Linked DNA regions of Homo sapiens. The protein of the gene in region 2 purifies or fractionates together with the protein of the main gene of each other region. This does not show direct contact. Each region holds a gene or a part of one and is shown on either strand. Other genes may lie near its edges.

The links. The genes of interacting proteins can lie anywhere in the genome.
Region 1: the proteins of SCG2 (region 2) and DCAF6 purify together in Homo sapiens (affinity purification with mass spectrometry; one large-scale study listed by BioGRID and IntAct). This does not show direct contact.

What each region holds. Positions count from the first base shown.
Region 1 is NC_000001.11:168,005,974-168,009,775, forward strand, and holds part of DCAF6 (DDB1- and CUL4-associated factor 6), read left to right. Parts: intron 1-3,802. UniProt on the Homo sapiens protein: Ligand-dependent coactivator of nuclear receptors. Enhance transcriptional activity of the nuclear receptors NR3C1 and AR. May function as a substrate receptor for CUL4-DDB1 E3 ubiquitin-protein ligase complex.
Region 2 is NC_000002.12:223,596,363-223,599,586, reverse strand, and holds the end of SCG2 (secretogranin-2 precursor), read left to right. Parts: intron 1-290; 5' UTR 291-304; coding exon 305-2,158; 3' UTR 2,159-2,647; downstream 2,648-3,224. UniProt on the Homo sapiens protein: Neuroendocrine protein of the granin family that regulates the biogenesis of secretory granules.

The DNA of each region.
Region 1 (3,802 bases), on a different chromosome or scaffold from region 2:
GTTAAAAGTTTGTTTTTCAAAGCAGGTAAAATTGGGAAAAGCAAGAATTTTTAAAGTGATATTCTTGAACATATTGATCAATTATAAGTTTTTAGGAAAACTTAGCAAGAAGACTCTAGCTTACATTCAGCTTCCACTGAATCTCAACTAATTCTAGTTGTTTCTTAAATATATTTATGAGTAAAGTATTTGGAACTTTATTTTTTAAAGCTATCTAATGCATTTTAATTACTGCATTTCAAATTGCTAAATTCCTTTCAATATTTAATGTAAGTATTAAATGTGACAATCATTTGAATTATTGAAGAAGAAAAAATATCTTTGGTGGTCATGTGATGATTATTGAAACATTATGCAGTACTTTTACTCATAAATTATTTATAGGAAGTAAGGAAATATTTTTAACTGGGAGATTATTGAGAGAATTTTGGTTGACTAAGCTATAGATAATTAGAATATTTCCATGTTATCAAGACATTATCACTATTGAGAAAAATGATTTGGTGTTAGATGTAACATCTGAAGGTTATGACTGTAGTTGTTCTGATAACAGCTTTTTCATTATTCTGGAGTTCAACGTTTCAGGAGTAAGGACTTAATTTGTTTCTGTTTTTGTTTTTTGTCCAATCTCTTTTGCATTTGCCATAGCCTAAGTCCAAATGTGTTTGTGAATATTGGGAATTGTCCATTGGGTGAATGTAGTAGATGGAAATGTCAGCTTAGGACCATGATTTCTATTATTTCCCTGCATAGAGATAGAGAAAATGATAAAGTATACTTCTGTCTATGCTTGCCTTGCTGTGGATACCTTTTTATGTAAATGTTTATCCCTTTACATGTCCTCCCTCATTTTTACTGATATCAAAGAAACGGACAATGGGAATATGAAAATTTGCTACGCTCCATCTCTGGTTGAACCTAATTGTCTGCCTTCTCTTAGTCTACAGTGGAATCACTGAATGATAATGAAGAAAGTTATGACCACAAATTTCAATGGGTGCTCAACACTGTGCATCAGAGCAGCCTCACACTGTTGCTCTCCAGCTGTACAAAATGACTATTTTACACTTTCATGTCTCTCAAACTTTAATACTTCCCTTCATCCCCGCCCCACTTCCAGATTCTAACCTTTCATTCACAATGAAAAGTACTCGTTTTCCTACTGTCAATAATTTCCCAGCTTTCCAACATCTGTACTCACATTGTGATAGAAGCAGAAAGCTCCTATCAAAAGCTAGTCAATGTAGTTGCTATCCCTTTCCAGCTTCTCAAAGATTTCGCCCCTTCTCTTGCATTATCATTGCCTTTTTTTGCCAAATTGTTTCTTTTGGCCTTAACATGCTCTTATTATCTCCTTTCTTTAAAAATTTTCTCTTAATTATCTCACATTCCCCTTCAGCTATTGCCTTATTTCTCTGCTGCTTTCGTAATGAGAATCCTCAGAAGAGTTGTTGATAGATGCTCTCTCCATTTTCTTGCCATCCTTCATTTATTTATTAACCAACCCCCATCTGCTTTTCAACCCCCTTTTCCTCTGAAACTTTTAATCAAAGTCACTAGTGACATTCACCAGTTTAAAGGATATTTCTCTGTTAGTACCTTACTAGATTTTTCGACCCGGTTGCATTTAACATAGGCTGTCACTCCTTCTTGAAACACTTTCCTTTCTTGGTATCTATGATATCATATTTGCCTATTTACTCTTATTAATTCTGGTGGGTTTTCAGTAACTGTTGTTCGTGTTTCTTGTTCTATCTCCTTCTGAATATTATAATCAAACCCCTTAGTTTGGGCTCTCTTCTCTTCTCTTTACATACACTCTTTCTCTGGGTGATTGTGTCAGTTCCTCATAGCTTTTAATATCTCCTGTAAATTCATGACTCACAAATATATATATCAGCAATCTGATCTTCTACCCTGAATTCCAGACCCTTATGCCTGATGTCTGACTGCTATTTTGACAGTATGTTTTTGTTATTGTTGTACATCTTTTTTTTTTTTTTTTTTTTTTTTTTTAAAGACAGTCTCACTCTGTCACCCAGGCTGGAGTGCAGTGCACAATCTCAGGTCACTGCAGCCTCCCCCTCCTGGGTTCAAGCAATTCTCCTGCCTCAGCCTCCCAAGTAGCTGGGATTACAGGTTCCTGCCACCACACCCAGCAAATTTTTGTATTTTTAGTAGAGATGGGGTTCCCCATGTTGGTCAGGCTGGTCTTGAACTCCTAACCTCAAGCAGTCCATCCGCCTCGGCCTCCCAAAATGCTGGGATTACAGGCATGAGCCACTGCACCCGGCCTATTGTTGTACGTCATAAATCTACATGTTCAAACTAAAACTTAATGCAGCCTCCTACCCTTCCTGTTCCGTAATTGGCTCCTTCTTGGTCCATTTGCTTATTTGAATAACCTGTGAGTTTTTCTTGATTCCTTCCTTTTCCTCAAGTCCCATGCCAGCTCATCAGCAAGTTCTTTTGTTCCTGTATCTAAACTATAACCTGGGTCTTTTCATCTCACCATCATTTCTTGTCTCCTAATTAATCTGCCTGTACCTACTGTTGTTCCATTATAATGTATTCTCCATGCAGGAGCCAGAATGAGTATTTTAACATGTTAAATCAGATTATATAACTTTGCTGTTTAAATCCCTTCAGAAGTTCCTAATTGCATTTGGAAATACAACTACAAAAGAAAAAAAAATCAAACTCCTCACTGTGGACGTATAAGAATTTATATGGCCTGCCCTTCCCTGTCTCTCTAGCCTCATCTCATTCAATTTTCTCAGTACTTGATGATTGTTACACTCTAGATGTACTACTGATTTCTTTCGGTTATCAGAGAATTTCCGTGCCAAATTCTGCCCTGCCCTGCCCTGCCCTCCCCCGCCCCACCCCGCCTCCACCCTGCCCCCACCCCCTCCCCTCCCCCCTCCCTCCCTCCCTTCCTCCCACTTGCTTGCTTTCTCTCTCTCTCTTTCTCTCTCTCTTTTCTTTCTTTTCTTCCTTCTTTTCTTTTCTCCTTCCTTCCTTTCTTTCTTTTTCTTCTTTTTAGACAGAGTCTTGCACTGTTGCCCAGGCTGGAGTGCAGTGGCGTGATCTCGGCTCACTGCAAGCTCTGCCTCCTGGGTTCACGCCATTCTCCTGCCTCAGCCTCCCAAGTAGCTGGGACTACAGGCGCCTGCCACCATGCCCGGCTAATTTTTTATACTTTTAGTAGAGACAGGGTTTCACCGTGTTGGCCACGATGGTCTCAATCTCCTGACCTTGTGATCCGCCCTCCTCGGCCTCCCAAAGTGCTGGGATTACAGGCGTGAGCCACTGTGCCCTGCCATTTTCTTTTCTTTCTCTTCTCTTCTCTTCTTCTTTCCTTCCTTCCTCCCTTCCTTCCTTCCTTCCTTCCTTCCTTCCTTCCTTCCTTCCTTTCTTTCTTTCTTTCTCTCTCTCTCTTTTGTTTCTTTCTGTCTCTCTCTCTTTCTTTCTTTCTGTCTCTCTCTCTTCCTTCCTCCCTCCCTCCCTTCCTTCACTTCTTCCCTCCCTTCCTTCCTTCCTTCTTTCCTCCATCCCTTCTTTCCTTCTCCTCTTTCTCCTTTTTCTCCTTTCCCATCTTTCTCTCTTTCCTGTCTTTTCTTTTCTTTCCCTCTTTCCTTCTTACACTTTGTTCTTAGTGTTATTCTCTGTATGCTTGGGAAGCCCTTGTCCTGGCTTATCACTTGGCCAACTTCCTTTTCCTTGAGTCTCAGCTCAAATGCCATATAAGACAAGTCTTTCATAACTACCCTAGGTAAAGTCCTCTTTCCTTTTTCTTCTT
Region 2 (3,224 bases):
AAAAAATAAAATTTAAGAAATCTCATATCAGTGTTTTTGCTGTTGTTTTAACTAAGAGAATGCTATGCAAGTTTTTGGTGAATGAGTAATAATTTTGCTAAAGATTCCTGTGGTTTGCTTGTGGGAATCATGTGGAAAATATTCATGAATTTTTAAAAAGAGTTATCCTAAGCTTAATGTGAAATAATATCTACTATGTTTTTTCCTCACCTCAATGATCAATTATTTCTTTTGCTATAGTGTCTTCTAGTTTGTTTCATTTGTGTAACTCATATTTTTTATGTTTTAAGGAAATCTTTCAAACATGGCTGAAGCAAAGACCCACTGGCTTGGAGCAGCCCTGTCTCTTATCCCTTTAATTTTCCTCATCTCTGGGGCTGAAGCAGCTTCATTTCAGAGAAACCAGCTGCTTCAGAAAGAACCAGACCTCAGGTTGGAAAATGTCCAAAAGTTTCCCAGTCCTGAAATGATCAGGGCTTTGGAGTACATAGAAAACCTCCGACAACAAGCTCATAAGGAAGAAAGCAGCCCAGATTATAATCCCTACCAAGGTGTCTCTGTCCCCCTTCAGCAAAAAGAAAATGGCGATGAAAGCCACTTGCCCGAGAGGGATTCACTGAGTGAAGAAGACTGGATGAGAATAATACTCGAAGCTTTGAGACAGGCTGAAAATGAGCCTCAGTCTGCACCAAAAGAAAATAAGCCCTATGCCTTGAATTCAGAAAAGAACTTTCCAATGGACATGAGTGATGATTATGAGACACAGCAGTGGCCAGAAAGAAAGCTTAAGCACATGCAATTCCCTCCTATGTATGAAGAGAATTCCAGGGATAACCCCTTTAAACGCACAAATGAAATAGTGGAGGAACAATATACTCCTCAAAGCCTTGCTACATTGGAATCTGTCTTCCAAGAGCTGGGGAAACTGACAGGACCAAACAACCAGAAACGTGAGAGGATGGATGAGGAGCAAAAACTTTATACGGATGATGAAGATGATATCTACAAGGCTAATAACATTGCCTATGAAGATGTGGTCGGGGGAGAAGACTGGAACCCAGTAGAGGAGAAAATAGAGAGTCAAACCCAGGAAGAGGTGAGAGACAGCAAAGAGAATATAGAAAAAAATGAACAAATCAACGATGAGATGAAACGCTCAGGGCAGCTTGGCATCCAGGAAGAAGATCTTCGGAAAGAGAGTAAAGACCAACTCTCAGATGATGTCTCCAAAGTAATTGCCTATTTGAAAAGGTTAGTAAATGCTGCAGGAAGTGGGAGGTTACAGAATGGGCAAAATGGGGAAAGGGCCACCAGGCTTTTTGAGAAACCTCTTGATTCTCAGTCTATTTATCAGCTGATTGAAATCTCAAGGAATTTACAGATACCCCCAGAAGACTTAATTGAGATGCTCAAAACTGGGGAGAAGCCGAATGGATCAGTGGAACCGGAGCGGGAGCTTGACCTTCCTGTTGACCTAGATGACATCTCAGAGGCTGACTTAGACCATCCAGACCTGTTCCAAAATAGGATGCTCTCCAAGAGTGGCTACCCTAAAACACCTGGTCGTGCTGGGACTGAGGCCCTACCAGACGGGCTCAGTGTTGAGGATATTTTAAATCTTTTAGGGATGGAGAGTGCAGCAAATCAGAAAACGTCGTATTTTCCCAATCCATATAACCAGGAGAAAGTTCTGCCAAGGCTCCCTTATGGTGCTGGAAGATCTAGATCGAACCAGCTTCCCAAAGCTGCCTGGATTCCACATGTTGAAAACAGACAGATGGCATATGAAAACCTGAACGACAAGGATCAAGAATTAGGTGAGTACTTGGCCAGGATGCTAGTTAAATACCCTGAGATCATTAATTCAAACCAAGTGAAGCGAGTTCCTGGTCAAGGCTCATCTGAAGATGACCTGCAGGAAGAGGAACAAATTGAGCAGGCCATCAAAGAGCATTTGAATCAAGGCAGCTCTCAGGAGACTGACAAGCTGGCCCCGGTGAGCAAAAGGTTCCCTGTGGGGCCCCCGAAGAATGATGATACCCCAAATAGGCAGTACTGGGATGAAGATCTGTTAATGAAAGTGCTGGAATACCTCAACCAAGAAAAGGCAGAAAAGGGAAGGGAGCATATTGCTAAGAGAGCAATGGAAAATATGTAAGCTGCTTTCATTAATTACCCTACTTTCATTCCTCCCACCCCAAGCAAATCCCAACATTTCTCTTCAGTGTGTTGACTTCTATCCTGTTAACACTGTAATATCTTTAAATGATGTACAGGCAGATGAAACCAGGTCACTGGGGAGTCTGCTTCATTTCCTCTGAGCTGTTATCTTGTGTATGGATATGTGTAAATGTTATGACTCCTTGATAAAAAATTTATTATGTCCATTATTCAAGAAAGATATCTATGACTGTGTTTAATAGTATATCTAATGGCTGTGGCATTGTTGATGCTCACATATGATAAAAAAGTGTCCTATAATTCTATTGAAAGTTTTTAATATTTATTGAATTATTTTGTTACTGTCTGTAGTGTTTTGTGGAGTACTGGACCAAAAAAATAAAGCATTATAAATATATAGTTTTATTTATAAGGCCTTTTCTATTGTGTGTTTTACTGTTGATTAATAAATGTTATTTCTGGACAACTTTGGACTCTTAATTATGGAAAACCAGAGACAATGTCTACGAAGCAAGCAGTATGAAGCCAAAAGAGAAAATCATCTTCACCAGACAATTCAGGTAAGAAGTAATGAATTTTATACATGTGTTCATGGTACCTGCTTGCAGAATGCTGCATCCTTATGCTTGCCCATGGTTTTCCTTATGCTTGCCCATGGTTTTCCTCAAATATATAATCGATAGAGTCTTTGTTTTAGGTATTTTTTACTCTTGATTTATATAAGTAAAAGAAATTTAAGTCTCCAATACCCATAGGCAGCCATCAAAACAAAAACAGAAAGAAAAAGAAAAGGCTGCATAGATGGCAATCAAAAATGACTACAGACTTGAAAGGAACTTGTCTATTCCCAGGTCATGTTGGTCCCCAAAAGACAAGGCTGTTGCCTCCCTTATGTGACTTGAGAGGGGCCAAAGGACCCCCAAACTGACCATTAGGTAAGTGAAGAAGCACAGTAGCAGTGGGAACAACCAGCCCCATCTTCTGCCCTAGTGGGCAAAGAAGTGCATGGTTATTACAGCGCACATCACTTTAGTGCAATGTCA